Linked DNA regions of Homo sapiens. The protein of the gene in region 5 interacts with the protein of the main gene of each other region in a pairwise test. Each region holds a gene or a part of one and is shown on either strand. Other genes may lie near its edges.

What was found.
Region 1: the proteins of MAGEB4 (region 5) and ZNF341 interact in binary tests that used the Homo sapiens proteins (3 or more experiments, as listed by UniProt).
Region 2: the proteins of MAGEB4 (region 5) and KRT38 interact in binary tests that used the Homo sapiens proteins (3 or more experiments, as listed by UniProt).
Region 3: the proteins of MAGEB4 (region 5) and AARD interact in binary tests that used the Homo sapiens proteins (3 or more experiments, as listed by UniProt).
Region 4: the proteins of MAGEB4 (region 5) and GOLGA6L2 interact in binary tests that used the Homo sapiens proteins (3 or more experiments, as listed by UniProt).
Region 6: the proteins of MAGEB4 (region 5) and GPATCH2 interact in binary tests that used the Homo sapiens proteins (3 or more experiments, as listed by UniProt).
Region 7: the proteins of MAGEB4 (region 5) and CCDC136 interact in binary tests that used the Homo sapiens proteins (3 or more experiments, as listed by UniProt).

Annotation. Positions count from the first base shown.
Region 1 is NC_000020.11:33,748,731-33,752,747, forward strand, and holds part of ZNF341 (zinc finger protein 341), read left to right. Parts: intron 1-192; coding exon 193-342; intron 343-4,017. UniProt on the Homo sapiens protein: Transcriptional activator of STAT3 involved in the regulation of immune homeostasis. Also able to activate STAT1 transcription.
Region 2 is NC_000017.11:41,438,184-41,442,977, reverse strand, and holds the start of KRT38 (keratin, type I cuticular Ha8), read left to right. Parts: upstream 1-1,994; 5' UTR 1,995-2,056; coding exon 2,057-2,548; intron 2,549-2,734; coding exon 2,735-2,817; intron 2,818-3,618; coding exon 3,619-3,775; intron 3,776-4,119; coding exon 4,120-4,281; intron 4,282-4,361; coding exon 4,362-4,487; intron 4,488-4,664; coding exon 4,665-4,794.
Region 3 is NC_000008.11:116,940,980-116,945,277, reverse strand, and holds the end of AARD (alanine- and arginine-rich domain-containing protein), read right to left. Parts: intron 2,721-4,298; coding exon 2,577-2,720; 3' UTR 791-2,576; downstream 1-790.
Region 4 is NC_000015.10:23,440,994-23,444,363, forward strand, and holds part of GOLGA6L2 (golgin subfamily A member 6-like protein 2), read right to left. Parts: intron 3,220-3,370; coding exon 3,169-3,219; intron 3,081-3,168; coding exon 2,784-3,080; intron 1,516-2,783; coding exon 1,457-1,515; intron 1,128-1,456; coding exon 986-1,127; intron 690-985; coding exon 1-689.
Region 5 is NC_000023.11:30,240,442-30,245,031, forward strand, and holds MAGEB4 (melanoma-associated antigen B4), read left to right. Parts: upstream 1-1,558; 5' UTR 1,559-1,694; coding exon 1,695-2,735; 3' UTR 2,736-3,746; downstream 3,747-4,590.
Region 6 is NC_000001.11:217,428,921-217,432,236, forward strand, and holds part of GPATCH2 (G patch domain-containing protein 2), read right to left. Parts: intron 2,446-3,316; coding exon 2,225-2,445; 3' UTR 1-2,224. UniProt on the Homo sapiens protein: Enhances the ATPase activity of DHX15 in vitro.
Region 7 is NC_000007.14:128,798,292-128,802,308, reverse strand, and holds part of CCDC136 (coiled-coil domain-containing protein 136), read right to left. Parts: intron 1,124-4,017; coding exon 800-1,123; intron 1-799. UniProt on the Homo sapiens protein: May play a role in acrosome formation in spermatogenesis and in fertilization.

The DNA.
Region 1 (4,017 bases), on a different chromosome or scaffold from region 5:
GTCACACAGCAGGGAGCAGCAGAGGTAGAAATGGAATCCACGTCTGTGGGATTCCAGAACCTGGATCTTTTGTGCCATGCCCTCGGCTTACTTACAGAGCCTGACATGTCCACACATGCACACACGCACACATGAGCACACACACACTCTGTCTCTCTCCGTCTCACTCATTCTCTCTCTCCCACTGTCCAGATCTCCACATACATCACAGTGCCCCCGTCCCCACTGATCCAGACCCTGGTGCAGGGGAACATCTTGGTGAGCGATGATGTGCTCATGTCTGCCATGTCAGCCTTCACATCCCTGGACCAGCCCATGCCCCAGGGCCCCCCACCTGTGCAGGTAAGAAGGTGTGGGCTTCTCACAGGGTCTTGATTCCAGACCTGTACATTAACTCCTGCAGATTCAGAATCTTGTAGAATAAAGGGGGCCTGGCCCCAGCTCTCCCTGATGCTGAGGGAGGCTATCAGCTTTCCCTTGTCCAGCTCTGCTATAGATGGGGAAGCTGCTACGTCTAGGTGGGGACCCAGAACATGTGGGGCTTTGTCAATACAGTGCAGCTATTTTGACTTTTTTTTTTGAGATGGAGTCTCACTCTGTTGCCCAGGCTGGAGTGCAGTGGCACGATCTTGGCTCACTGCAACCTCTGCCTCCTGGGTTCAAGTGATTCTTCTGCCTCAGCCTCCTGAGTAGCTGAGATTACAGGCATGTGCCACCACAGCCAGCTAATTTTTTTTTGTATTTTTAGTAGAGACAGGTTTTCTCCATGTTGATCAGGCTGATCACGAACTCTTGACCTCAAGTGAGCCCCCCACCTCAGCCTCCTGAAGTGCTAGGATTACAGGTGTGAGCCACTGTGCCCAGCCAATTTTTGTATTTTTAATGGAGACGGGGTTTCACCATGTTGGCCAGGCTGGTCTCAAACTCCTGACCTCAGGTGATCCTCCCACCTTGGCCTCCCAAAGTGCTGGGATTACAGGATTACAGGTGTGAGCCACTGCACCCAGCCTGACTTTTGTTTTTGTTCTTTTTTTTTTTTTGAGACAGAGTCTTGCTCTGTTGCCCAGGCTGAAGTGCAGTGGTGCGATCTTGGCTCCCTGCAACTTCCACCTCCCAGGTCCAAGCAATTCTCCTGCCTCAACCTCCTGAGTAGCTGGGATTACAGGTGTGCGCCACCACGCCCAGCTGATTTTTGTATTTTTAGTAGAGATGGGGTTTCACTGTGTTGGTCAGGCTGGTCTCAAACTCATGACCTCAGGTGATCCACCTGCCTTGGCCCAAAGTGCTGGGATCACAGGTGTGCGCCACCGCGCCCAGCCTTGTTTTTATTCTTAACAAGTGTCCCATGTCTATTAGAAAAATAGAAAATGCACAGTAGCTCCCTGGGATTTAAAAAAAAAATTTTTGTAGAGATGACCATCTCCCTTTGTTGTCCAGGCTGATCTTGAACTCCTGGGCTCAAGGGATCCTCTAGTGTCGGCCTCTCAAAGTGCTGGGATTGTAGACGTGAGCTACTGCACCTGGCCAGGATTTTTTAATACAAAAAAGATCTGTGGCCAAAGGAACCTAAGGTGGAGGTGTTTTACTTCTCCCCTTGCTGTGTCCCTGGATTCTTCCTGCCATATAGAAATCCTTTTGATTTTCTCAACCGAGACTTTTTTTTTCCCTGTTTGGGAACCCAACGAACACAGTGAAGAAGAGGACCCCGTGTCCTTTATGAAATGCTGATCAGCATCATGTTTTTATTTTTGAGACAGCGTCTCACTCAGGTCACTCAGGCTGGAGTACAGTGGTAGGATCATAGCTCACTGTAACCTCAAACTCCAGGGCTCAAGCAATCCTCCCTGCTCAGCCTCCTGAGGAGCTGGGACTACATACATGGTGCCAACATACTTGGCTAATTTTAAAAAAAAATTTTTTTTTTTTTGAGATGGAGTCTCGCTCTTGTCACCTAGGCTGGAGTGCAGTGGCACCATCTCGGCTCACTGCAATCTCCGCATCCTGGGTTCAAGCGATTCTCCTGTCTCAGCCTCCTGAGTAGCTGGTATTACAGGCACCCGCCACCATGTCTGGCTAATTTTTGTACTTTTAGTAGAGACAAGGTTTTGCCATGTTGGCCAGGCTGGTCTTGAACTCCTGACCTCAGGTGATCTGCCCACCTTGGCCTCCCAAAGTCCTGGGATTACAGGCGTGAGCCACCGTGCCTGGCCTAAAAAAATTTTTTTTTAGAGACAGAGTCTCGCTATGTTACCCAGGCTGGTCTTGAACTCCTGGGCTCAAGCAATCCTCCTCCCTCTGTCTCCCAAAGTGCTGGGATTACAGGTGTGAGCCACTGCACCCAGCAGTACCATCATTTTAACAACTGCAAAGGATTCCACCATATGGATAGGCCATCTTCTGCTTAGCCAAGTTTCTATGTATAGACATGTAGGTCATTGCTGTTTTTTGCTTTTATGAAAATGGCTGGAGTCACTATCCATAAACAGACATCTTTGCCCACCTGCTTGATTTTTTTTGTAGCATAAATTTCTAGAAGTTACTGGCTGCGTTTCACGACTACCCACACATTCATGATTCTCTCAAAAGACTCACGGGACTCAGAGGTAGTTGTACTCATGGCTGTGGTTTATTACAGCAAAGGAACACACAGCAAGATCAGCAAGGGAAAAAGACACATCAGGTGGAATCTGGAGGAATCCAGAGTTCTCTGTCTTGGGGAGGTGGGGAGAGGTTGCACAAAACACACTTCTTCCTGCAGCAGTGAAGTCTAGCAACATGTGTGCTGTGTTTCTACCCAGGGAAACACACTTCAGACTCCAAAGCCAGGGTTTTGTTTGTTTGTTTGTTTGTTTGTTTTTCTGAGACAGGGTCTCACTTCAGCTGCCCTGGCTGGAGTGCAGTGGTGCAATTTCGGCTCACTGCAACCTCCACCTCCCTGGGCTCAGGTGATTCTCCCACCTCAGCCTCCCAAGTAGCTGGGACTACAGGTGTGCACCACTATGCCTGGCTAATGTTTTTGTATTTTTAGTAGAGATGGGGTTTTGCCATGTTGCCCAGGCTGGTCTCAAACTCCTGGACTCCACCCGCCTCAGCCTCCCAAAGTGTTGAGATTACAGGTGTTAGCCGCTGCACCAAGCCCAAGGCCAGGGTTTCTGTTAGGGATTGGTCATGTAGGTGACCAGCCACCATGACCAAAATTCCAGACTCCCAGAAGAGAAGGAAGTGTTCACCATGAATCACATATTTTGTCCAAGCAGTCTACATAATCTGGTACAATAGAACAGTGCCCCAGGTGGGCAAAATAAGCCTTATCAACAAAGGAGATGTCCCACAAACCAGATTCTCAGATCCCAGTCACGAGCTAGTGCTGCAAGCAAGCCCCCCCCCCTTTTTTTTTAATTTTATAACTTTATTTGAGGTATTTGATGATCAGCGATTAGTTCTCATCCACATTGACTGTCTGTAGATTTTTGAAAGTGGTAACAGGTACATAGGTAACCAAAGTATAGAGCTTATTTGGTGGATCTTCATCCTCATAACATTTTCTGGACAACCGCACACGGATGCAGTATGGGACATTCTTTATTCCTTTGTCTCAGACAGCTTTGTTGAGGCTGGTATCAATGCACACATCTGGAGTTCCCATCTCCTTCATGGCAAGTTTCCGAATCTCTTTGAGTGCCTGAGGAGCACGCTTCTTGAAGCCACTCCATGGATGCACTTGTGAATGTTGATGGTGTATTCTCAGGTCACCACCTCATTGATGGCCGAATGACCCTTTTTCTTCTCGCCACCCTTCTTTCTGGGAGCCATTCTGCTGGGTCCAAGATGGAAAGGGAAGCCCTTCTTAAGATAGCAACATTAGGCTGCTATATTAACTCTTTTCTGCATGAATGAGGTCATTTTTGCCTATTTTCTTTTCTTTTTTTTTTTTTTTTTTGAGATGGAGTCTTGCTCTGTCACCCAGGCTAAAGTGTGGTGGTGCAATCTCCACTCACTGCCAGCTCCGTCTCCCAG
Region 2 (4,794 bases), on a different chromosome or scaffold from region 5:
CTTTTAGTCCATGGAATGAATCTGGGCAGAGGATAAAGCCAAAAGATGGGTGCTACTTAGCAAATCAAAGGAAATGACTTTAAAAGCCTGGCTCTCTGATTTATAGAGAAGCTTGTTGCTATGTGATGAGGCGGAGGAGAGTAACAAAAGGGTGTTTGAAGATGTAACATATGCAGATTGCACCCAGTGGCCTCTGGAGGATGGGACAGCCTGCCCTGGTGATGTCTCCCAATGATGTTGTCTGTAAAGGGTTATGGATTGGTGAGCTCTGAATAACCCTTAGGTCAGCGCTCACTACTACTTACTTTCCTGAGAAGCCCAATCTGGACTGAATTCTCAGATTCTGTATTTCTTCTTGATAGAACTCCAATAGCCTGTGTTTCACATATGCACGTCTGATCCCTATAGAGGTGTATGTTCAGCTTTTGTTCAATGCTCAGGGGACTGGCAAAAACTCATTTTCCCAAAATTCTAGTTATAATCACTTTGGATTGTTCCACATTAGGTTTTTCTTAGTCTCAGGGGTCTATGTATCTTCTGTCACAAATTTTGGGAGAAAAGTTTTGGGATCTCAGCAGCCATGTGTCTTGGATCCCTAGTACCAAGAACTATCTGAATGTGGAATGTGTAATATAACCATTTTAGGGACAGGACTTTCCCCTGGCATCTTCTGATTTAGCCCTTGGAGAAACTCTGTTTTATTGTATGAATACCTCCACATCTGTATTTTCTGAGATACAAAGGGAAAAATACACAATGTCAGATTTTTGTTTTACATCTTAATTTCAACTTCTTGCCCGGTTTCTAGGAATTTGAATCCTTCTTAGTTCTAGCAATGACACAGTAGTTATCCTTGGGGTGGAGGATTTGGAGGTGGTCAAGGTGAAGAAACAGTTTCTGGAGTTGAAAGAAGCTGATGTTGAGAATAGGCTTTATACTTTATAGTGAGGTTGATCTTAGAAAACTGTCCTCAATGGCTTGTTTATTTATTTTGTAAAATTAAGAGTACCCACCTCCCAGGTTGGAAGTAAAGATTAAAAGGTATCATTGCTCAATCCCCTAGCTCATAGGGTGAAGGCTCATGACTGACTTTAGAATAAAGGAAGCAAGGTATGAAGAGAGCCCACAGAGGCTCTGATCACTCAATGTCCTTTGACTTTCATGACCAAGTTCTTATTTGAGGTTCAGTAAGATTATTGCTCATTTCTCTTTGTTTATTTCTGGCTTCTTGAGCTTGCCCTTCTTGGTCGAGATAAGCCATGGTTTTTGGAGTCATCCTCATTTTCATGAGCTTCTCAGATACCTTGTTTGAAACATCACGTCTACCCAAGTTACAGTTGTTCCCCAATGGCAGGAACTATTTTGTGCTTAACCAACTATATATCAAGCATCAGCAAGGTGCGTAGCATATGGGACGTAGCCAGGGGATGTGTTTTGAGTGACTGGATTCATCTAAGTCTTGTTGCTCCTCAAAGTGAGTCTGAAAGGCAACCAACTAAAGAAAGAAGAAATGTAGGACTTCTTGATAACCCAAGGCCATAACATCCACCAATTCCAAGACTCAGTTTCTTCCCTGGATAGGGAAGGCTGGTTGAGTCTTAACCCAAGTGAGAACCATTGTCATCACCGGGGTTAGTCCTCCTGCTACACCACTGACCAACAGGAAAGTTTGTGTCTCCAGAGTGGACACATCCATAAAGAGGCCAAACCCAGTCAAGGTCTAAGCATCTGATGGCTATAACTTTGCTTCTTTGAAAGATAATAAAAAGCTTCTGACCTCCCATCAACAGCCAACCTGATTTCAAAGAGCCAAGAGGCCTCAGATTCGTCAACATTCCTTTAACGAGCTGAGAAACTTTTCATGGTAAACTCAGCAGCTGAGTAACAGGATGATGGCACCACAACAGGTAGATAATCAAGGCAGGAGGTCAAAGCATTGGAGCCAACACCCGCCCAGGATGGGGTATAAAAGGGCTGGGAGGAGAGGAGGCTTCAGTCTCAGTGGTTCAGCTTTCCCAGCTGATCTGAAGCTCCTGTGCAGCCTCAGCCCAACACCATGACCTCTTCCTACAGCAGCTCCTCATGCCCTCTGGGTTGCACCATGGCTCCTGGAGCAAGAAATGTCTCTGTCTCTCCCATCGACATTGGGTGCCAGCCTGGGGCAGAGGCCAACATTGCCCCCATGTGCCTTTTGGCCAACGTGGCACATGCCAACCGAGTCCGTGTGGGGTCCACTCCCCTGGGCCGCCCCAGCCTCTGTCTGCCGCCTACCTGCCACACTGCTTGTCCCTTGCCAGGGACCTGCCACATTCCTGGCAACATTGGAATCTGTGGGGCCTATGGTGAAAACACCCTGAATGGCCATGAGAAGGAGACCATGCAGTTCCTGAATGACCGCCTGGCCAACTACCTGGAGAAGGTGCGCCAGCTGGAGCAGGAGAATGCGGAGCTGGAGGCCACACTCCTCGAGAGGAGCAAGTGCCACGAGTCCACCGTGTGCCCCGACTACCAGTCTTACTTCCACACCATCGAGGAGCTCCAACAGAAGGTGAGGTGTGGGATCGCTTGGGTGTGCTGGGTCTGAGATGGCAGAGGCAAGACAGGAGGAATCCATGTAAAGCTCAGAGAACTTTGGGTTCTTGGTTTCTCTTGGACATGATCATAGACACCACACGTGGAGAAGGAGCCTAGGGCATGATGCTTTGTGTGTGAACTGTCTTCCTGTTCTCCTCAGATCCTGTGCAGCAAGGCCGAGAATGCCAGGCTGATTGTACAAATTGACAATGCCAAGCTGGCTGCCGATGACTTTAGGATCAAGTAAGTCAGGCGGAGGAGGGCCAGGGTGACTCCTTCCCCACCCTCCATCCCAATGCCCAAATACTTGTTGAGTGAGGGAATCATTGTCATTTCTTCCTTGCTAGATTCTCTACAGTAAAATTTTCATTACAATCGAAGCTGATGGAAGATGGAAGGGAAAACTCCTCATTAATCCAAGCATATATGTTTGTCTTCCTTCATTTATTTCCCTAAAATGGAGGATAAGGCAGCCTGAGTTCATTAACCAGGAGCAAAATGAGGTGATTTGAAGGATGAACTGAGCAAGACAGCCATTGGGTTTCATATATAAGTCAGAGGAGTCACTTACAGATGAGTCTTTGTCCAGATTTAATTAGGGAGCCCTAAGGTACCAGGTATAAGGTACCTAGGCAAAAATGAGAGAGGGGAAGACAGCTGAAAGCAAGGGATAAGGAGCCGCAGATCACGATCAGGCACCTGGTTATTGCTTATCTTTGGTAACTGACAGCCCCTGCAATGGCATGAGCGTTGGACTGGGTCCCAAGATGCATGATCTTACGCAAGTCAGTTGATCTTCCTGAACTGCAGTTGCCACAGAATACAATGGCAAAAATGTATATTGTGCAATGTAGTGTTGTGATTTCTCCATTAGACCATGAGCTCTTTGAGAAGAGGGGCTGGGTCTAATTCACCTTTGAGGACAGAGGGCTAAACAGAGTGAATAAATGAGGATCCAAGGTGGTGTGGGAGGTAGGAAGCCAGGGCAGCCGAGAGGGGCTCTTGGGGGCATTCTTTTTGACCCTGTACCTCCTGTGATGAAAGGCTGGAGAGTGAGCGCTCCCTGCGCCAGCTGGTGGAGGCAGACAAGTGTGGGACACAGAAGCTCCTGGATGATGCGACCCTGGCCAAGGCCGACCTGGAGGCCCAGCAGGAGTCCCTGAAGGAGGAGCAGCTCTCCCTCAAGAGCAACCACGAGCAGGTGTGGCCCTGGGCGCTCAAACTCCTGGGGAGGGCACTGGGCAGACAGGGGAGCTCCCCAGCCCCGGGCTCTCAGAGCATTGCCTGGCCTCAGCTGGCATCAGGATGCAGGGCTGAGGTGGGTCTGAGGGTCCAGAGGGCCTCTGTGGAAAGTGCAGACTTGCCTTGGGCATGAGGAAGGTGTGCAGGTGGGCTCTCCCGAATGCCCTCTGGGCAAGACTTTCCCATTTGCTTGTGTGTGGGACTCCCCTCCTACTGCTTGCCAGGGGCGGGGTCCTGGTGCTGTCTGCTCCATCAAAGGCCCTTTCCTCATGCAGGCTGTCTGTCCCTTCCTCCCTTCTGCAGGAAGTAAAGATTCTGAGGAGTCAGCTGGGGGAGAAGCTCCGGATTGAGCTGGACATTGAGCCCACCATTGACCTGAACAGGGTGCTGGGGGAGATGCGGGCTCAGTATGAGGCCATGTTGGAGACCAACCGCCAGGATGTGGAACAGTGGTTCCAAGCCCAGGTGAGTGGGGGGGGTATAGAACCAGGGGGTACCTGGCCTCCATCTGGGCAGGGAGGTGACCGTGTCTCTCTGTGCTCCAGTCTGAAGGCATCAGCCTGCAGGACATGTCCTGCTCCGAGGAGCTGCAGTGCTGCCAGTCGGAGATCCTGGAGCTGAGATGCACGGTGAATGCCCTGGAGGTGGAGCGCCAAGCCCAGCACACCTTGGTACGTGTCCTTCACTCTCACTGCACTGCAAATGCCCCGTGCCATGGCCTAGTAGCATTTTATTTTGGAGGTCTCACTACCCAAGTTTCTCCCACCTGTTATCACCATCAAAATTTGAGGCATGTAGCAGTTTCCCTTGGGGCCTTGTATATTTTATCCCCTTATTTCCCACTACAGAAGGACTGTCTGCAGAACTCCCTGTGTGAAGCCGAGGACCGCTTCGGCACGGAGCTGGCCCAGATGCAGAGCCTCATCAGCAACGTGGAGGAGCAGCTGTCTGAGATCCGGGCCGACCTGGAGCGGCAAA
Region 3 (4,298 bases), on a different chromosome or scaffold from region 5:
CATTGCACAGTTAATATCAGAGGCCACCTCCACTGACTCAGACTTCCATAAACAAGACACTTTGGACACAAAGGAGTTTCTCGTTCTGTTTCTGTATCTGTCGCCTCTAAAAAATACAGTGATCCAAAGTTCATCACTAAAAGATGTGGGGAAAAAGTGGTGATCAAAACTTTGCAATACAATAATGGACCTTTTTAAATCTAAAAATGTGAAAATCAATGCATCAATTTTCATACTTTCTCTTTTAAATTTTCTTTCTTTTGATCCCCAATATATTATCAGTATAATCAAATGACATTAGTATTAACCAACATCAGCAGTCTGTATTCTGTAAGGAATTGAGCTCATACAATGAATCACCTCGAGTATTTTTTAAACACAAAATTACAACAATTTATAAATGTTAATCTTTAAAATGCACTTGAGAATGATTGTCCCAAAGGTTAAGTGGAAGCTTTTTCAAAAAACAGATCACAAGGAACTATGCCAACCCTTTCCTAAAAATTTCTATAAAATTCAAAGGAAGAAATAAACAGGAAATCTAGTTTACAAATGAAATTTAATATAGTAGTCGTATATTTATAGGCCAAGAGCTCATACGTAAAATGTGTGAAGGAACACAATGGTCAGATATTGAGATGCTGGCAACTGCTCATCTGCCAATGCTGAATTTGGTAATTCCTCATTTATACAGAGGGAAATTAAGTACCAAAGGGCTAGAATAATTTACTTATTGTGGACAAAAAAGTTAAGGACAAACTAAACTTAGTCCAGATAATTCTCAGATCCTCACACACATAAAACAACTTGCATTTATTTTATTTTTATTATTTATTTATTTTTTCGAGGCCAAGTCCCCCTCTGTCACCCAGGCTGGAGTGCAGGGGCATGATCTCGGCTCACTGCAACCTCCATCTCCCAGGTTCAAGTGATTCTTATGCCTCAGCCTCCTGAGTAGCTGGTACTATAGGCGAGCACCACCACGCCTGGCTAATTTTTGTATTTTTAGTAGAGATGGGGTTTTGCCATGTTGACCAGGCTGGTCTCAAACTCCTGAGCTCAAACAATCTGCCCACCTCAGCCTCCCAAAGTGCTGGAATTACAAGCGTGATCCACCATGCTTGTCCTTGTATTTCTTTTAACAAGAGAAAGACTGTGTCTCTTCTGTTCTCCTTTGTCTTCAAGAACTGATTTTTATAGTTTATTAAATATTAAAATTACATAGCTTGTTATAAATTAATTTGTATTTTGCAGACAATAACCATTATAAATATCACTTAGATCTGCAACTATTTTTTATTAACTTTACTGTTTGCATTAAAAAGACAGCACTTTTCGGGTACAGTTAGATAGTCCAATTCAACAGTAAGAACCATTTTAACTCCTAAAACTGAACAACTGTATTAGTTATGAACACTAGATACAAGTCATGAAACTCCAGCTTGAATTTACTTAGGCAAAAAGAGATTTTATGAGAAGGATATCAGAATATTTCATGTACATAAACAAGAGCAAGGCCTGGAGTCTTATACAGCTTGACCCCAGGAACAAGGAAGCGAAGCACCCTCCCTCCCTCCCTCCCCTTTTGTGCTTTTAGTGGTTCCGTTTCAGTCACCTCCATTAGGGTGTGGGCTTTCTCACATGGTGACCACCAGCAGCTTCCAAGCCCCTGATCCACAGCTTCTACTGGCAGAAATAGTCATCTACTCTTTTAGTGCCCATTCAAAAATCCTAAGGACAAACCCATCTGCCTGCCTTGAGCTGCATGACTATATCCAGGAAGATGGAATACCCTTAGTCACAGACCACCTAAAGGGCATGGTTAGAATCCAAGTAGAAACAATTCTCCACAAGAAGCAGGGCAGGCTGCTGGACAGACAAACTGAGAATAATCAAGTAAAACAAAACAAGCACAAACTCTGAAAGCTCAGGCAATGCCAGAAAGGTCAGGTGACACAAGGTTGAATACCGAAAGTTGGCATTAAAGCATTCTTTGAGTGAGAGAGACAGAGAGAGATTTATCTATAGTTATATTTTACTTCTATGTCCCAGTAAAAATAACAAATAAATAACTTTAAAACTTGGTAATACATCATTTTTCTCTCCCCTCTCTTAGATGTTTTTCTGTCACCTTCCCCTGTCATTTGTTTTGGGTCTATAAATTGCCCCTCAAAACTTATGCAAAGCATAATGTGTTCATCAGAATTGTTTCAGGGTTGTATGCGTTAGTTTTAGGATCCAGAGCTTCGCGTGTGCTTTTTTTTTTTTTTTTTTTTTTGAGATGGAGTCTTGCTCTGTCACCCAGGCTGGAGTGCAGTGGCAGGATTTCGGCTCACTGCAAGCTCTGTCTCCTGGGTTCACGCCATTCTCCTGCCTCAGACTCCTGAGTAGCAGGGACTACAGGTGCCTGCCACCACGTCTGGCTAATTTTTTGTATTTTTAGTAGAGGCAGGGTTTCACAGTGTTAGCCAGGATGGTCTCAATCTCCTGACGTCTTGATCCGCCCGCCTCGGCCTCCCAAAGTGCTGGGATTACAGGCGTGAGCCACCGCGCCCAGCCCTTGCGTGTGCATTTCTTTATTCCGGATTCGCAGCATCATCTTTTGGGCTTTGGGAGTCTGATGTAATTTCCAGTTCATACTCCTTTTTCAATTGCTGCACTTTCATGTTTAGGTCCAGTAAAGTTCTAGCCAGCTGGTGGTTTTGGAAATGCATTTCCACCTAAAAGTTAGAAAAAAATAAAAATTTTATTAGCCTGAGATGCAGATCAAATGAAACCACTCTCTGACTACACAGAAGAAATAAGAAGTTTGTAGGAAAAGAAAATAAGATATCAAGGAAGATGTATTTCTCATCTTATTCTCCAGTTTTAACTGTTTGGTCTGGCTATAAAACTGACTTTCTATATGACAAGGTAAAATCCAGATATATAAATAGTTTTTGAAATGGCTTGAAATGAAAACAAAAGTAGCTGATGCACAAAGCTGTCCATATGAAAAATACCTATGCACCGAAGGCTGTTTTCAAGGAATAGCATGTGATCCACAATGAAATCATTTATCTTTATGCGCCTTCTGAGCCACAGGATAACTGCCTACAGCCACCTGAGTATTCAGAATCTGTGCTATTTACTTGATTACTTATCATTTCAAGTTTTCAGGATTTTAAATGGTCTACCTGCTGAGCAAAAACATTTAATGACACCTTAGAGACACATGTATAGTTATGTGTACTTATATAATCTAACATTTTTCACTCTGGAGTGAAATCTGTTTCATATCAAGGCTGATTTATACCATCCTTCAATGGGAGTTTATGAAGGTCCTCGTGCGTTTAAAAAAAGATCTCTAGGGCATGTTACCCGGGGGCAGTCCAAGAAAGCTTAGTCCAACATAATCTTTGTATTATAACTGAAAACTAATGATCAACTACTTGCAAATTTCTTCAGCTAGGGCTTGTTTAATGCAGTTCACGAGGAATTTGTTCTCTCTGCTAAAAAAGCTTCATCAGCTTGTCAATAGAAACCACCCCAGGATGAACCAGGACAGTGTGTTGGTAAAAAGCAAATATTCATGGTCATCTGATTTGCAAAATAAAGCTACTGGATAAAATTATCTTTCAGTTTTTCTCTGAGACATTCCTCTCCATTCTGAAGCACCTAGAATCATTTTTCTGACAGCAAGAATTAGCAAAGAATAAAGTAAATGAATATCCAGCAAACAAGCACTAACAGTAACCACACAACCACCACAACAAAAAACCCTTGCACCTTGCCTGCAGGAAGCTTCAGCTCTCTAGGGTGGCCCAGATGCTCTATAATCCTGCCCTACTTTGAGCTTCCTTTCCTGGCCCTCTTTCCCATGCCAGCTCCCATTGCAGCTGGTCAGAAACCTTGCCAGTCCCTAAATAAATGCTGAGCTGAAGCTCACCTCTTTCTGTCCCCATTTCTGTTTAAGATGCCCTTTGCCACCTCTCTCTGCTGAACCCAGTCAAATGCCAGCTCTTCTGAGAAGCCCTCCCTGATTGCATGGGCAGACATAATTGCCTCTCATCTGTGCATCCACAGCACTCTGTACAAGTGCCTCATAACACGCTGACCAGACGAGACTGATGATTTTGAGGGTAGAGGCTGTATATTATTCATAATTGTATCCCCAACTAAGAGTGCACTGCCTGGGCACACAACCTAGTAGGTTCTCTGTGTGTTTGTTATAAGAGTGAGTGAATTAATTAATTAATTAATTAACTGATGAATATCCGTCCTGTACTTTCATGCAAGAATCAAGGAGAAAAATTATT
Region 4 (3,370 bases), on a different chromosome or scaffold from region 5:
GGCAGCCTCTGCTGCTGCCACTCCTTCTCTTCCTGCTCCCACATATTCTCCTCCTGCTTCTGCATCTTCTCCTCCTGCTCCCGCATCGTCTCCTCCTCTTCCCGCATCTTCTTCTCCCGCTCCCGTATCCTCTCCTCCTCTTGCATCTTCTCCTCCTGGTCCCGCGTCTTCTTCTCCTGCTCCTGCATCTTCTTCTCCTCCCGCATCTTCTCCACCTGCTCCCACATCTTCTCCTGCTCCCGCATCCTCTCCTCCTTCTCCCGTAGCCTCTCGTCCTGCTCCCACATCCTCTCCTCTTGGTCCCGCATCTTCTGCTCCTGCTCCCGCATCTGCTTCTCCTGCTCCCACAGCCTCTCCTCCTGTCTCCACATCTTCTCTTCCTGCTCCCGCATCTTCTCCTCCTGCTCCCACATCTTCTCCTCCTGCTCCTGCATCTGCTCCTCCTGCTCCCGCAGCTTCTTCTGCTCCCGCAGCTCCTTCTCCTGCTCCCGCAGCTCCTTCTCCTGCTCTCGCAGCCTCTTCTCCTGTCTCCGCATCTTCTCCTCCTGCTCCCGCATCTTCCCCTCCTGCTCCCGCAGTCTCTCCTCCTGTCTCCACATCTTCTCCTCCTGCTTCCGTATCTTCTTTTCCTGCTCCCGTAGCTCCTCCTCCTGCCTCCACATCTCCTCCTGCAAAGTGTTGGTTTGAACCTCAAAAGGAAATAGACTTATGAACTAGCTATATAAATGTAATCTATAAAATAACAGTTTTCATCTATGATTCTTTAAAAAAAATTTTTAAGCCTTAACACTGAGGTTCTGATTTCCCAGGCAGGGCCCCAAATTTGTAGATTTTTAGCACACTCTAGAGGATTCTATGGTGGGACCAGAACAAGGACCCAAATTTTCCAGCTCTTGGCTGGACCCTCCCCATACCTTGCATGATCCCTAGACCATGGTCCTAGCTGGATGGGTCTCCCACAACCCCTGGGGCTGCAGCCGCTCACCTGTGGCAGCAGGAACTTGGCCCTCTCCAGTTTCCTTTTTAGCTCCTTCACGTTGAGCTGGATCTCAGACTTTTCAGATTCTGCAAGTCGAAGTTTTTCTTGTAGTTCGGCATTTTTCTTCTTCAGCTCCTCATTGGTTATGCTATGGCCCGAGGCAGTAGAGAAAGGAATGAACGAAGAACAGAAAGGACTGCTTTGGTGATCAACCCTCTACTCTCGCCCCACAAGCACAGAACCGTGGCACTGGAAGGGACCCCAGGAATTAAAAGTCCCAGGTGGCAGGCCAGAGAGAAGACATGAGTTGCCTGAGGCTACCCCATGAGTCAGTGGCACAGCCGGCACTAGAGCTTCCCTGTGCACACATGTAAACCTGTATGACCCCCTACCATGCTCACCTGTACCCCCCACCTCCCAGCACACCACCCACGCTAAGGGCCCCCAGACCTCCCATCCCACCTTCCCCCATCCTACGTGTTCCTGTACAGTTCCAGACTCAGGGCGTCCCTCTCCTTTGTTAACTCCTCGATGTACTGCAAATAGAGAAAGGTTAAGTCAGGACAGAGCAGGCAGAAGAGCAGCTGGCCGACCAGGAACAACAGCTACACTGATACTCCACAGTAACACTCCCTCACTCTCCATCACACCCGACATGTTCTCAAGGCAATTCCAAGCCCATGGTCTCATTTTTTTTTCTTTTTTTTTTTCTCCTTTTCTTCTTTTAGAGATGGAGTTTTGCTCTTGTTGCCCAGGCTGGAGTGCAATGGCGCAATCTCGCCCCATGACAACCTCTGCCTCCCGGGTTCAAGCAATTCTGCCTCAGCCTCCTAAGTAGCTGGGATTACAGGCATGCGCTACCACACCTGGCTCTCACTTGTTTTTCAGAGAACTCAGTAAGGGTAGAAGGGACAGGGAAAGAGACTGAATTGATAGCTGGCTAACAGGGGCCCAGAGAGATCAGATAATATTGCTATTGCTATTACTGTTATTACTGCCACTGTTGGAACCTTTCTTGAGTGCTTCACCAGGCACTATGCTAACAATCCCATTTAATCCTCACAACCTCCATAGGAGACGGTTACCATTATTACCTCTATTGTATAGATGCAAAACATGGGGTATTAAAAGTTAAATGGTTGCCTAAGATCACTTTGACAGAGCTGGGATTTCAACACCCAGGTGTATCTGATTCTCTAAGCCCATTCTTTCCCTGGGGGTAGGGGCACAGATAAGAAGGAGGAAATTAATCCTTTGTTGACTTTTTGAAAGAACGATACATTGGCATAGTCCAAAACTCAGAAGGTAGAGAAGGGAAATATCTACCCCACACACACTGTTCCTGTCTCCTGAGTTTTTTATGAATCCTTACAAATATGTTTTTATGTATGTTACCATAATACGTACACACACACACACACACACACACGCACATGCACACTTATGTGTGTTCCCTCTCTCTACACAAATGGTAACATACTAAAGATACTCTTCTGTACCTTCATGGTACAAATACCTTAACCCCTGCCTAGGACTTGGTCAAGGCCACAGCCAAGTATGGGCAGGGCAGGCTCTTGGCCTTGGAGCTCTGTGTCCAGTGCTCGCTCCCCACAGTGCCCCCCAACTCACCCACAGCAGCTGACTCAGCCCCAACCTGCCTCTAATAACCACACACAAAAGCAGCAAGAAATGACCCATACTATCTTCTGGGCAGGACACTGCATCCTGCAGGAGGGACCTTTAGGCTCATTCCTCCATCTGCGAAGCTGGGATCCCAGGAGACTGGGGAGGTGATTGGACTTACCCTGTCTGCCTTCTTGTGCCATGTGGACACAGCAGAGAGAGCCCGCTGTAACTCTCCTGCAAAGTGCCAGGAATGATGCAAGCGGCCGGCGAGATCCTTGGACTCTCCTGGAATGAGAGAGGTTGAGACACAGCCCAAAGGACTCCCCCTAAAGGCCTGTGAAAGTGCCAGGTTGAAGGATGATGGGGTGCCCAGGTTCCCATCTTCAAATTTCCTGGCAGCATCCTGGCTGTAATAGAGCGCTGTCTCCAGTTCAGTTTTCTGACACGTGAGAATTCGTATTGTATGATCCTGGGCCTTTGGGAGAAAAGACAAGCAAGTGCTGAAAGAGAAGCAAAAAAACCTTCTCCAGAGGACAGGAGGGAACTTCACACCCTCCACTCACCTCTATCTCCCGCCTTAGGGCTTCCTGATGTTGGTGGCTTGCCTTCTTTTCCTATAGAAAGAGGAAGACAGAGCTCTTACTAGGGGGAGGCAGAGATCCACAGCAAGAGACATGCCCCCAGAATGGCACCAATGCCCCAGGACAGGCGCACCCATGGGACCAGGTTATCAGGGACCCTGTGGGGATGGGGTGGAATCTTGGC
Region 5 (4,590 bases):
TTGTTACAATTGAGAATACATGGACACATCATTATCACCCAATGTCCGTAGTTTAGGATTCATTCCTGTTGCTGCACATTCTGTGGTTTTAATATTTAAAAATGTATAATGACATATGTTTACCACCATAGAATCATCCAGAATTGTTTTACTGCCTTAAAAGTTCTCTGTGCCTGATCTATTTATCTCTCACTCTCCCCAACCTTTGGAAACCACTGAACTTTGTACTGTTTCCATACTTTTGCCTTTTCCAGAATGTCATATAGATGGAATTATGCAATGTATAGACTTTTCAAATTGGCTTCTTTCACTTTGTAATATGTATCTAAGTTTCATCCATGTCTCTTTGTGGCTTGATAGTTCATTCCCTTTTAGTGCTGAATAATATTTTATTCTGTTAATTTATCCACTCTCCTTCTGAAGGACATATTGCTTGCTTCCCAGTTTGGGCAATTATGAATAAAGCTACTATAAACATTTGTGTGCAGGTTTTTTTTGTGGACATACCGTTTTCAACTCATCTGGCTAAATAACAAGGAGCGCACTTGCTAGATCATATGATGAAAGTATGCATAGCTTTGTAAGAAACTTACAAACTGTCTTCAAAAGTGGCTGTATCATTTTTCATGTCCATCAGCAATGACAGTGTGCTCCTGTTGCTCCACATCCTCATCAGTATTTGGGGTTATCAGGGTTTTTGATTTTGACCATTCTTATAGGTATGTAGTGGTATCACATTATTGTTTTAATTTGCAAGTCTCTAATGATATGTGATGTTGACCATCATTTCATGTACGTATTTGCCTTCCATATATATTATTTGTTGAGGTGCCTGTTTAGATCTTTTGTCCATTTTTAATAGGGTTGGTCAGTTCTTATTGTTCAGTTTTAAGACATTTTTGTATGTTTTGGTTAACAGTCCCTTATCAGATATGTCTTTTGAAAATAATTTTTTCCCAACCTGGGAGTTATCTTATTCTCTTTGTGGTATCTTTAGCAGAGCAGAAGTTTTAATTTAGCGAAGTCCAGATTATCAATTATTTTCTTTCATAGATGCCCATCACATTTTATACCAGAACTAGAAAAGATGAAATTCTTGGTCTGAAGTTGCAGTTATCAGTCAGCAGAAGAGACAGTCCACAACCCTGCTTGGAGTCCAGATGAGGATCCTGAGTGCAAACTTGGGACCTAAAGAGCCCAGGACAGAGAGAGCACTAAATGCTTCTAGGCAGGGGTGGTGGGTTGAGGGGCCCCTAGACTTCCCTCATCTGGGTCCCAGAAAACTAAAGAGTCAATTTCACAACACCAATAGAGGGAGGCTCAGGCCCTGCCAAGAGCTGACATGACAATTCTAAAGGTAATCAGAGTGGATCCTCTCCAAGCCAGAACACAGAAAGCCCCACTGCGAGCCTTGTTGTCACCCAGTCAGCCCCAGGCAGGGTTGGCAAGCTGCAGCCTAAGGCACATTGTAACTTCCTCAGCTGGCTTCTCAGGGGACAGAATGACTAAGAACAATAGCCCAGTGAATACTTAGAGCAGTGTTCTCAAGGAATCCTGCAGAGGCGGCTTCTGAAAAGCCAAGGTAGTATCTGCCTGCTGAAGGTGTTCTCAGGATTTCATTTGCTCTTCTCCAGGAACCACATCACCTGCCCTTCTGCCTACACTCCTGCCTGCTGTGCCTAACCACAGCCATCATGCCTCGGGGTCAGAAGAGTAAGCTCCGTGCCCGTGAGAAACGCCAGCGGACCCGTGGTCAGACCCAGGATCTCAAGGTTGGTCAGCCTACTGCAGCAGAGAAAGAAGAGTCTCCTTCCTCTTCCTCATCTGTTTTGAGGGATACTGCCTCCAGCTCCCTTGCTTTTGGCATTCCCCAGGAGCCTCAGAGAGAGCCACCCACCACCTCTGCTGCTGCAGCTATGTCATGCACTGGATCTGATAAAGGCGACGAGAGCCAAGATGAGGAAAATGCAAGTTCCTCCCAGGCCTCAACATCCACTGAGAGATCACTCAAAGATTCTCTAACCAGGAAGACGAAGATGTTAGTGCAGTTCCTGCTGTACAAGTATAAAATGAAAGAGCCCACTACAAAGGCAGAAATGCTGAAGATCATCAGCAAAAAGTACAAGGAGCACTTCCCTGAGATCTTCAGGAAAGTCTCTCAGCGCACGGAGCTGGTCTTTGGCCTTGCCTTGAAGGAGGTCAACCCCACCACTCACTCCTACATCCTCGTCAGCATGCTAGGCCCCAACGATGGAAACCAGAGCAGTGCCTGGACCCTTCCAAGGAATGGGCTTCTGATGCCTCTACTGAGTGTGATCTTCTTAAATGGCAACTGTGCCCGTGAAGAGGAAATCTGGGAATTCCTGAATATGCTGGGGATCTATGATGGAAAGAGGCACCTTATCTTTGGGGAACCCCGAAAGCTCATCACCCAAGATCTGGTACAGGAAAAATATCTGGAATACCAGCAGGTGCCCAACAGTGATCCCCCACGCTATCAATTCCTGTGGGGTCCAAGAGCTCATGCAGAAACCAGCAAGATGAAAGTCCTGGAGTTTTTGGCCAAGGTGAATGACACCACCCCCAATAACTTCCCACTGCTTTATGAAGAGGCTTTGAGAGATGAAGAAGAGAGAGCTGGAGCCCGGCCCAGAGTTGCAGCCAGGCGTGGCACTACAGCCATGACTAGTGCGTATTCCAGGGCCACATCCAGTAGCTCTTCCCAACCCATGTGAGATCTAAGGCAAATTGTTCACTTTGTGGTTGAAAGACCTGCTGCTTTCTCTGTTCCTGTGATGCATGAATAACTCATTGATTTATCTCTTTGTTGTATTTTCCATGATGTTTCTTAAAATAGAAAGTTTATTTAGATTCAGAATATAAATTTAGAAATGGCATGCATCACACATTTATTGCTGTTTATCAGGTTGGTTTAGTGATAATAATTTTGTTTTTGAAATACAAATAGAAAATCCTGAAATAATTTTTGTGATACAGAGCAAAATAACACGGCATGGGAGTAAGGTTATCCTTAGAAATTTAAAATAACTCCACAGTAAAATAGGTAGAATCTGAAGATAGAAAGGGAAGAAAAGTAAAAGTTGCTTTATTCGTGGTTTGTCTTACTCAGTTCAGTCTTTTTTTGCTCATAAATTTAAAAGTTACATACCTGGTTTGCTTAGATTATTCAAGAATGTGGAGGCCTGGGCCAAGGTCAATGACAGTGTCTCCATTGTCTTCCCTCCATTAAGAGAAGACTTTAAGAGATGAGGGAGAGAGAGCCAGAGACAGTGTTGCAACTGGGCCTGGCATGTTTCAGTGTGGTGTCCAGCAGTGTCTCCCACTCCTTGTGAAGTCTGAGGTATATTCTTTACTTTTGATTAAGAAAACACTTAACCTTCTAATTAATGGAGAGCCAAAGGGGAGTTGGTGGGAACACCATGTATAACATATTTGTATGTAAAATGATTTATCTTTTCTTTTTCCTGTTTTTCAGTGTTCTTTTTTTAAATTGTAGATTTATTTAGTTTCAGAATCTAAGTTTATGAATGGCATGAATCACTCATTTATTAAAATATATCAGGTTGGAGAGTGAGAATTTTTGCATTATGTAAAACAATTTAAAAATCTTTTAAGTCTTTTTCTGTGATCTAGAACAAGATAATATGGCATTGGAATATGGAATTTGTGAAAAGGAAATTACCTTGCAATAAAGTTGGTGGGACCAGGAAGTAGAGAAAAAAAAAGTAAAATGTGGTCAATTCTTGCTTTGTTTTATTCTTTTTAGTCTTTCTTTGTAAAACTGAAGTATATGTACCCGGATCTGCTTAGCTTTTTCAGGAATGTGGGGGAAATTAAATAGCAATACATTTGACTTCCTGGTCACTTACACTTCAATTGTCCAAATATTAATTGAGCAGCTGTACTTTGGAGGGCTCCTGGCTAGTACCGGATAAGCTAAGAAAACAAAAAACAAACAAACAACAAAAAAACCCCAATCCCTGCCCACAGAATTTTAGAATCCAACAGCAGCTATCATATAACGAAGGTAATGAGATACTCCTTAAGACCTAAAGACAGGTGAAAAGGGGATAAAAAAGAAGGTGGGGGTATTACCAGCAGTGGAATCTAGTGTAAATGTCCTAAGCAAGGTAACTGAGACTTCGGGAAACTGAACATACTGCAATAGGAGGTAATTTTATGTCCTGGCATAGTGCCTATATGGGGCGCACTGAGCAGGGGTCACACACTCAGATGGTGGATCTCACACTTGAGAGATGGAGACTGGAATGAAAAATTGCCTTTAACAGTTACTTTGGGATTGTGGAAAAACCAGAGGGGATCTTTGCCTGGAGCAGGGATTGAAAGTGGCCGGTGCTCTTGTCCCAGTGCAAGTGAAGTGAATCCAGTACACAAACTAGGTGTTTTATGAGCGTAGTCCCCAGGGTGTTTCTGAGAAATAAAGGTGATACTCCTTTAAGACTGGAAACTCATAAGCCACTGGGCTAATACTCTGCTATCAGCTGGGGAGCCAGAACCCATTCCATTAAAAGGAATTTTTTTTCCTTTCATGTGTTTTTGCAAATTCTA
Region 6 (3,316 bases), on a different chromosome or scaffold from region 5:
GCTCTTCTTCACTATGAGGGTTTTTACTTCCATTAGAACATAATAAGGTGAAAAAGAACAGCCAAGTCCTCAGGAGTGTGGAACCAGGCTAACAATGACCTCATTGTTTGCTCTCAGTGGCTTCAAACTTGGCTTTTTGAGATTCTAGGATTTTAGCAGATCTCCAGGCAATCAAATTAACAAAACCTCAAACACCAAATTTTGAATAGACCCCAGAGCACAATACACTATCACAAAGAAGTTTTAAAACTTGTATATAATCTCCCCCCGGCTACATAGACAGAATGAGCATTTAGAAAATATCAGTTAAAAAAATGGCAAATTTGTAAGTAAAAAACTTGTAGAAAGTAATGATACCATGGGGTTACTTTATCCAGTAAGAATGCTTCAAAAGAACATCTCTTCTGGTCGTCCATAGTTCCCTAACCAACCTGTCCTCTAGGTACAATATCCCTGGGAAAGAAGATAATTCTCAAGAAATGTACATTTGGCAAACCGTGAAGGCTTTCAAATAGCAGGTTGGACTTCCCCTCCCTAGTTGGCAGGATTTTTTTTAGGGGACCACCTGAGAAAGGTCTGTTACGTGCATAAACCTCCTTTAACACCTTTTAAAAACTCTTCTGGGGGCTGGGCGCTGTGGTTCATGCCTGTAATCCCAGCTCTTTGGGAGGCCAAGGTGGGCGGATCACTTGAGGTCAGGAGTTCGAGACCAGCCTGGCCAACATGGTGAAACTCCGTCTATACTAAAAATACAAAAATTATCCGGGTATGGTCGTGGGTGCCTGTAATCCCTGCTATTTGGGAGGCTGAGGCAGAACAATCACTTGAACCCAGGAGGGGGAGGCTGCAGTGAGCCGAGAGTGCGCCACTGCACTCCAGCCTGGGCGACAGAGGCAGACTCTGTCAAAAAAAAAAAAAAAAAAAAAGAAACAAAAAAACTCTTTTGGAAAGTGACAAGATTTTAAAAACCCATTAGAAAGGTGATTCACATGTGTTATCTCAGTCTTTACTCAACCAGCAAAGGCCATTATAAATAGAATGATAATAATCATCATCATAATAAGTTGTTAATAATGAAGATAATAAATAAAGATCTTCTAAACTAAAAGCAATTTAGAATTTCTGATACTATGAAGCAAATGACTCAGAAACAGCTCAATACTAGGCACGTAATACAAACGACCTCTTTTGCTAGGTTTTAAAGTAACATCTTGGGTCCTAGAAAGGGCAAATCAGTACCATTTACTTCTTTTGTTCACCTTCTAAATGGGTTGGGTCATTGCCAGAAATCTGAGTTCTGGGAGAGCCATTTAACTTTTCATGTAAATTGATTCAATATTGTAATAAATTACTCCAATGATTAAAATTTTAAATCCGTTTACTACACTTGAGTTGATCTTAAAAATAATATCAATCTTTGGGAAAACAGAGGTAGAAGTACATCTGGATTAATAGAATTTACAGTTCAATCACGGTGAATTTAAAAAATACATTTTTCTTTCAATAATTATTTTATGTTCTAAATGAGGTAAAATTTATAAAATCTGCATTAAAGTAAGGTAGAGGGCACTCTGGTGATAACAACGATGAGGTTTATTTTTGTCAAAACATCCAAGGGAAACATTAATTGTTGTTTGTCAACTGTGAACTTCACACTACATTGTCTAAGGATAGAAAATTGATGGGTATCACTCTGTCAGAAAATCCTCACCAAGAAGCCAATTCAAGGAATATGAAATTGACAAGCCTTTCAAACAAAGATGTGTTCGGACTTCACTGATGCGATGGTAGGTCTTTTGGGTTACAATAGATAGGGATGATATAAAACACAATCTTTTCCTGTCTATTCCATTTTAGAAACTGGTGGGTGTGCTCACGTTTGTCTGGGCATTGCAGCACTGCACACATACATGAATTAAGCAAAGCATCGGAAAGTATTGACACATGAGACTAAAATAAATAAGAGAAACGAGCTGCTCTTTATACCTAGAAATAGCTGGAAATTACTGAAAAAAATTAAAGTGCAGAGGTTTTCATTTTAGCACCATGAATTGTGATGAAATCCCATTTCTCTCACTATGGCAGGACTGTATGCAGTAAGGAAGCTAGAGTGATGTGTTTGAGGCAATGTAGATTTTTGCTTCAAAAACAGAAGTCATGTTATCATTTTAGAACAATGGGACATAGTGAATAAAGTCTGTAAAACATTTCTTCTTTGCTTTTCTTAGGCGGATTTTCCTGCATTGGGGGTAGTAGTTGCGGAAGTACTTTTTGGTAGAGGAAATCCAAGTCCTAATCCCTTTGGCCTCTGCATGGCTTGAATTGGCTCAGAGATCCCCTTGCCATCTCGTCCAAGGCCTGACCCAGGCGTCCAGCCCATATTCTGAAGCATTCGGTTTCCAATATTATTTTCTAGGATTGGCTGGGCATTTTCACCTACAAATCCTGAAATGATAAAACAACAGCACACATTAATCAGTATGAACACAGGTGAAGATATTAGGCTATGAAAACGATGTTCTCCTAAGTTTTGTTTTGTTTTGTTTTTCAACCAGGTACTAGAGGGGGTTGCGTATTCATCTTTGGATACTTTTTGTAGTTGAGAGAACAATGGAAGAAAGATCTTGTTTAGAATTTCAATTCTAGCACTTCACAGCAGGGTGAGCTATTCAGCCTCTCTGGGCTTTTGTTTCCTCATCTGTGAAACAGCCATAATACAACCTACATTGCCTATCTCACAGAACTTTGTAGGACAGATGAGATCATGTATGTAAAGAAACTTCTCAGTAAACCATAAAGTACTCTACTAATGGATTTATTTTCATTACCATGTTAGCCTTATGGATTATTCAGAAAATCACCAACCTATATTGTAATATCTCACATTTGCCCATGACCTTGACATTCAACAGAACCAAAACTAAAACCAAACCAAACAAAAAGCACAACTGGTGGCATCTTGAATTCCTAGGAATTTACATTCTTATAATCTCTCTCCTTGTTATTTATTATTCAGTCTGTAACATATGCCTCCTTTAGTTCCTTTCCTCCTTTTCCTTCCATGGCCATGTTTAAATGATTATATAAGTTAGTAGAAAGAAAATAGAGGAAAATAATATTAAAGAGATATATATTATAAAACTTAAAAAATATATTATATACATTTGCAGGTACATAGACCACAATTCCCTTCATAGGCCTCCAGAGATAGATATATTTCTTCCTTCCCTTCCCTCCCTCCTTCCCTCCTTCCCTCCCTTGATTCCTTATTTGAAAAAGGAGATTGGTTAGTGCTTAACATGAAATTTAGATATAG
Region 7 (4,017 bases), on a different chromosome or scaffold from region 5:
CTCCATTATACTCAGATTATAAATCTAGCCTCAGAATAAAGGCAAACTCTCTGATGTCATGAATCCTAGCAACTAGCTGGGAGACTCACTGTCTGAAAGCAGGGCTCTAGGCTTTTGGGTACCTCATGTATCACTCAGAATAACTTTTCTTCTCTAGCTGTCTTTTGTTCCGATTTGTTGCCCCCCAAAGCTTCTATTTTGAGGAGAGCTAATGGAACCTAAGAATTAGCATCCCTGCACCTGGAAGCAGGGCCAGAGGCCCCCTATAAAGCATTCCAGGCAAAGCACCATGATGCCAGGGCAGCAGGAAGAGTTTCCCAAGGTGACAGGTCCCTCTTTGCCCATCCTAGAGCTGGAAATTTTCCCAGGAAGGGTTTTCCCATAGTCAAATCAACAAAGACCCAATGACTCTCTGAAGAATTCCCAGGGTACCTCTCCATGGTGCTATTTCTTACACCACCATGGACTGGTTATGTAACATCTGGGTAGGTTTTTCCCCTTTACTGTCTTTTTAAAATTTTTATTTAAATTTTTCTTTTAGAAAGAGATAGGGTCTCACTTCATTGCCCAGGCTGCTCATGAATGCCTGGGCTCGAGTGATCCTCCCATCTTGGCCTCCCAAAGTTCTGGGATTACAGGCATGAGCCATCACGCCTGGACCCCTACAGTCTTGAATTCAACCTGGAGGTTTTTTCTAGAGATTCCCAATTCATGATCTAACACCACCTTCTACCATTTTCCTATATATTATCTCCTTTCCTCTGCTTGACTTTACTGACCCACTTGATGGCTCTCATACCTTGTAACCCAGAGTAATCTGAGAGACCTAAACTACCGGATGGTTCAGAGCTCTTCATTTCCATTTCTGCACGGAGGGAGGCGATCTCCATCTCATAATCTCCCCGAATGCGTTCCATGTCTTCAAGTTCATTCTGCATCCGGCAGAGATCCTCCTGCAGGGATGCTATGTCACTCTCATGTTCAGTTGCGGAATCCTCTGCTGCTTGCCGCAGACTCTGGATCTCAGCCTGGGCCAAATGCAATTCCTGTTCTATTTCCTTAAGTTCGCTTTCTTTCTCATGCTCTAACAGGGAAATCTCCTCCCGTAGAGAACGCAGCTCACCTGCAAAGTCCAAAGGTTGAGATGATCAAGAGGGCAGGTGAACTAACCTACCATGTTCTAGAGGCACAAAATTAAAGGGAGACTTATTTCTTGTCTGCAAAGTCCTGAAAACCTTGTCTCTACCCCATCAGAGAAGTGTAGCATCATGCCGGACGGAATAAAAGGAGTACCTAAGAAGGGAAAAGAGAGTGACTCTATGTAGTAAGGTCCAATAGAAAAGTAGATTTTGAGGCCTGGCACCAAAACAATCACTTAGTCTACTGTAAACAAAAAGTATTTCATGCTTCTAAGGAATCACCTGACAGTTAAAGACCTAACTTCATTTATAGTATTTTCTTGATGCCCTGAATCTTTCTAAAAATCCCCTGACTCAAAAAATGTATACAGACTATTTTCACCTATTCATCCTGAGAGCTCAGAAATTACAGAGCCTCAGAGTTCCCATGACCTACCTGTGGTAAGTACTGGACCTAAAACAATGTGCATTTAGAGTTCACAACTCAAATTCAAATATAAGTTCACTGCATAATAACCAAACACGGGATAATAATCTAAGTGTCAGTCGATAAGGGATTGTTTAAATTGATGATAGGCTGGGAGCAGTGGCTCACGCCTATAATCCCAGCACTTTGGGAGGCCAAGGCAGGTGGATCACTTGAGGTCAGGAGTTCAAGACCAGCCTGGCCAACATGGTGAAACCCAGTCTTCGCTAAAAAAAAAAAAAAAAGAAAGCCAGGTGTGGTGGCACGCCCCTGTAATCCCAGCTACTTGGGAGGCTGAGACAGGAGAATCATTTGAGCCCGGGAGGCAGAGGTTGCTGTGAGCCAAGATCGCACCACTGCACTCCAGCCTGGGCAACAGAGTGAGACTCGGTCTCGAAAAATAATAACAATAATAAATAAATAAACTGATGATAGTTAAATAGAATATCATGCAGCCATTTAAAAGAAAGTATCAGATCTATGGTGAAAACAAAGAAGTTTCCATATTAACTGAAGAAAAAGAGCTGTAAAATATATGCTATGATCTAATTTTTGCAAAAAATATTTTATGTATAGTATATAACACACAAATGGACAAACATATAGAAAAAGGCCTGGAAAGATCTATGCCCAAACCATAATGAGTAGTTGTTTCTGAGGTATGGGATAACATGTGGTAAGGTTTTTACTTTACATATCATATCTATCTGTGCTGTTTGGATTTTCAGAACAAGCCTATATTTTCTATTTTTTAATTTACAAAATAATGAGTTAAGAGTTCTCTGTATCTATGGAGCATCTCAGAGTTTCTAGACACATGTACCCATCTGGGATCAGAACGAAAAAGTGGAGAGAGTAAAAGGCACTGACACCAACAGTGAATTTAGGATTTGAGGGCCAGGATTAGAGAATTAATGAGGATTGGGTTGGGAGGGTCAGGATTTTCCCATAAATCCTTTGCAAGGCACATTCTCCCATCCCCTTCCCCCAACTTCTGCTCATTCTACTCACCACTCAGATGTCAACTTTTCTAGCCTGTACCTCCACTTCCTCAAAAAAAAATAAGAGAAGTCCTCTATTAAATGGTCTCATAAAACCTTGTACTTTGCTATATGTGTGTGTGTACTTAAGTCTCCCCTTCACTTGGTTATAAGCTTTATCGAGGCAGAGAGCATATCTGGTTTGCTCACCATTACAGCTCCAGGATCTAGTATTGTGCCTGAAAACGAAGCTCAATAGATATTTGATGTATTCATGCATAAGTAAGGCAGCAGTTCATCTATTCAACAAACTTTTGCTAAGTATCTCTTATGTGTACAGAACTAAACATTTGGGGTTTGGGGGGTTTTCCTTTCTGTTTTTGAGACAGTCTTGTTCTGTTGCCCAGGCTGGAGTGGAGTGGCATGATCATGGCTCACTGCAGCCTTGACTTCCTGGGCTCAAGCAATCCTCCCTCCTCAGCATCCCTAATATCTGAGACTACAGGCATGGGCTACCATGCCCTGCTTTTTTTTTTTTTTTTTTTTTTTTTAATGTAGAGATGGGGGTCTCTTTCTGTTGCCCAGGCTGGTCTCAAACTCCTGGGCTCAGGCGATCCATCTTGGCTTCCCAAAGTGCTGGGATTACAGGCATGAGCCACCACACCTGGCCCTGTTTGGATATTTTTTAAAAATTAGAATAGAATCTAGACTTTCAAAGAAGACAAATTTGGACACGCTTCATAGATAGATGCTGAGTGGTGAGGGCATCTCAGGGGAAGATCTACCCTGCTCCCCTGAGCTCACATGTGGAACTATGGGCATGTCTTTTGCCAATCTTTCCAGTTCTAGAATGATCCTAGCTGTTACGTCTCCTTGATCTATTCAACAACTATTAACTGATCCTTAACTGCGTGCCAAGGCCAAGAATCTCCTGTTAGATTCTCTGACTTCCTATTGGAAGAAAAGTCCGCTCTACCCCCACTACTGAGCAGCACAGTGAGGTCTGTCTAGCTAGGGAGACACAAGAGGAAGCTGGCCATTAGGACAAAGGCCCTAGAGTCTGGGGTGGGTGTTCTGGAGAAACAGACCAACCTCCACCTCCCTAATATGCTTTTGATGTTAGGGTTCAACTCTCTCTTAGGTGCTTCTGGCCCTAAAAAAATGGTATTGTCGGCCAAACACGGTGGCTCACACCTTTAATCCCAGCACTTTGGGAGGCTGAGGCTGGTGGATCACTTGAGATCAGGGGTTGGAGACCAGCCTGGCCAAAATGGCGAAACCCCATCTCTACTAAATATACAAAAATTAGCCGGGTGTGGTGGCTGGCATTTGTAGTCCCAGCTACTCGCGAAGCTGAGGCAGAAGAATTGCTTCAACCCAGGAGGAGGAGGTTGCAGTGGGCCAAGATCTCGCCACTGCACTCCAGCCTGGG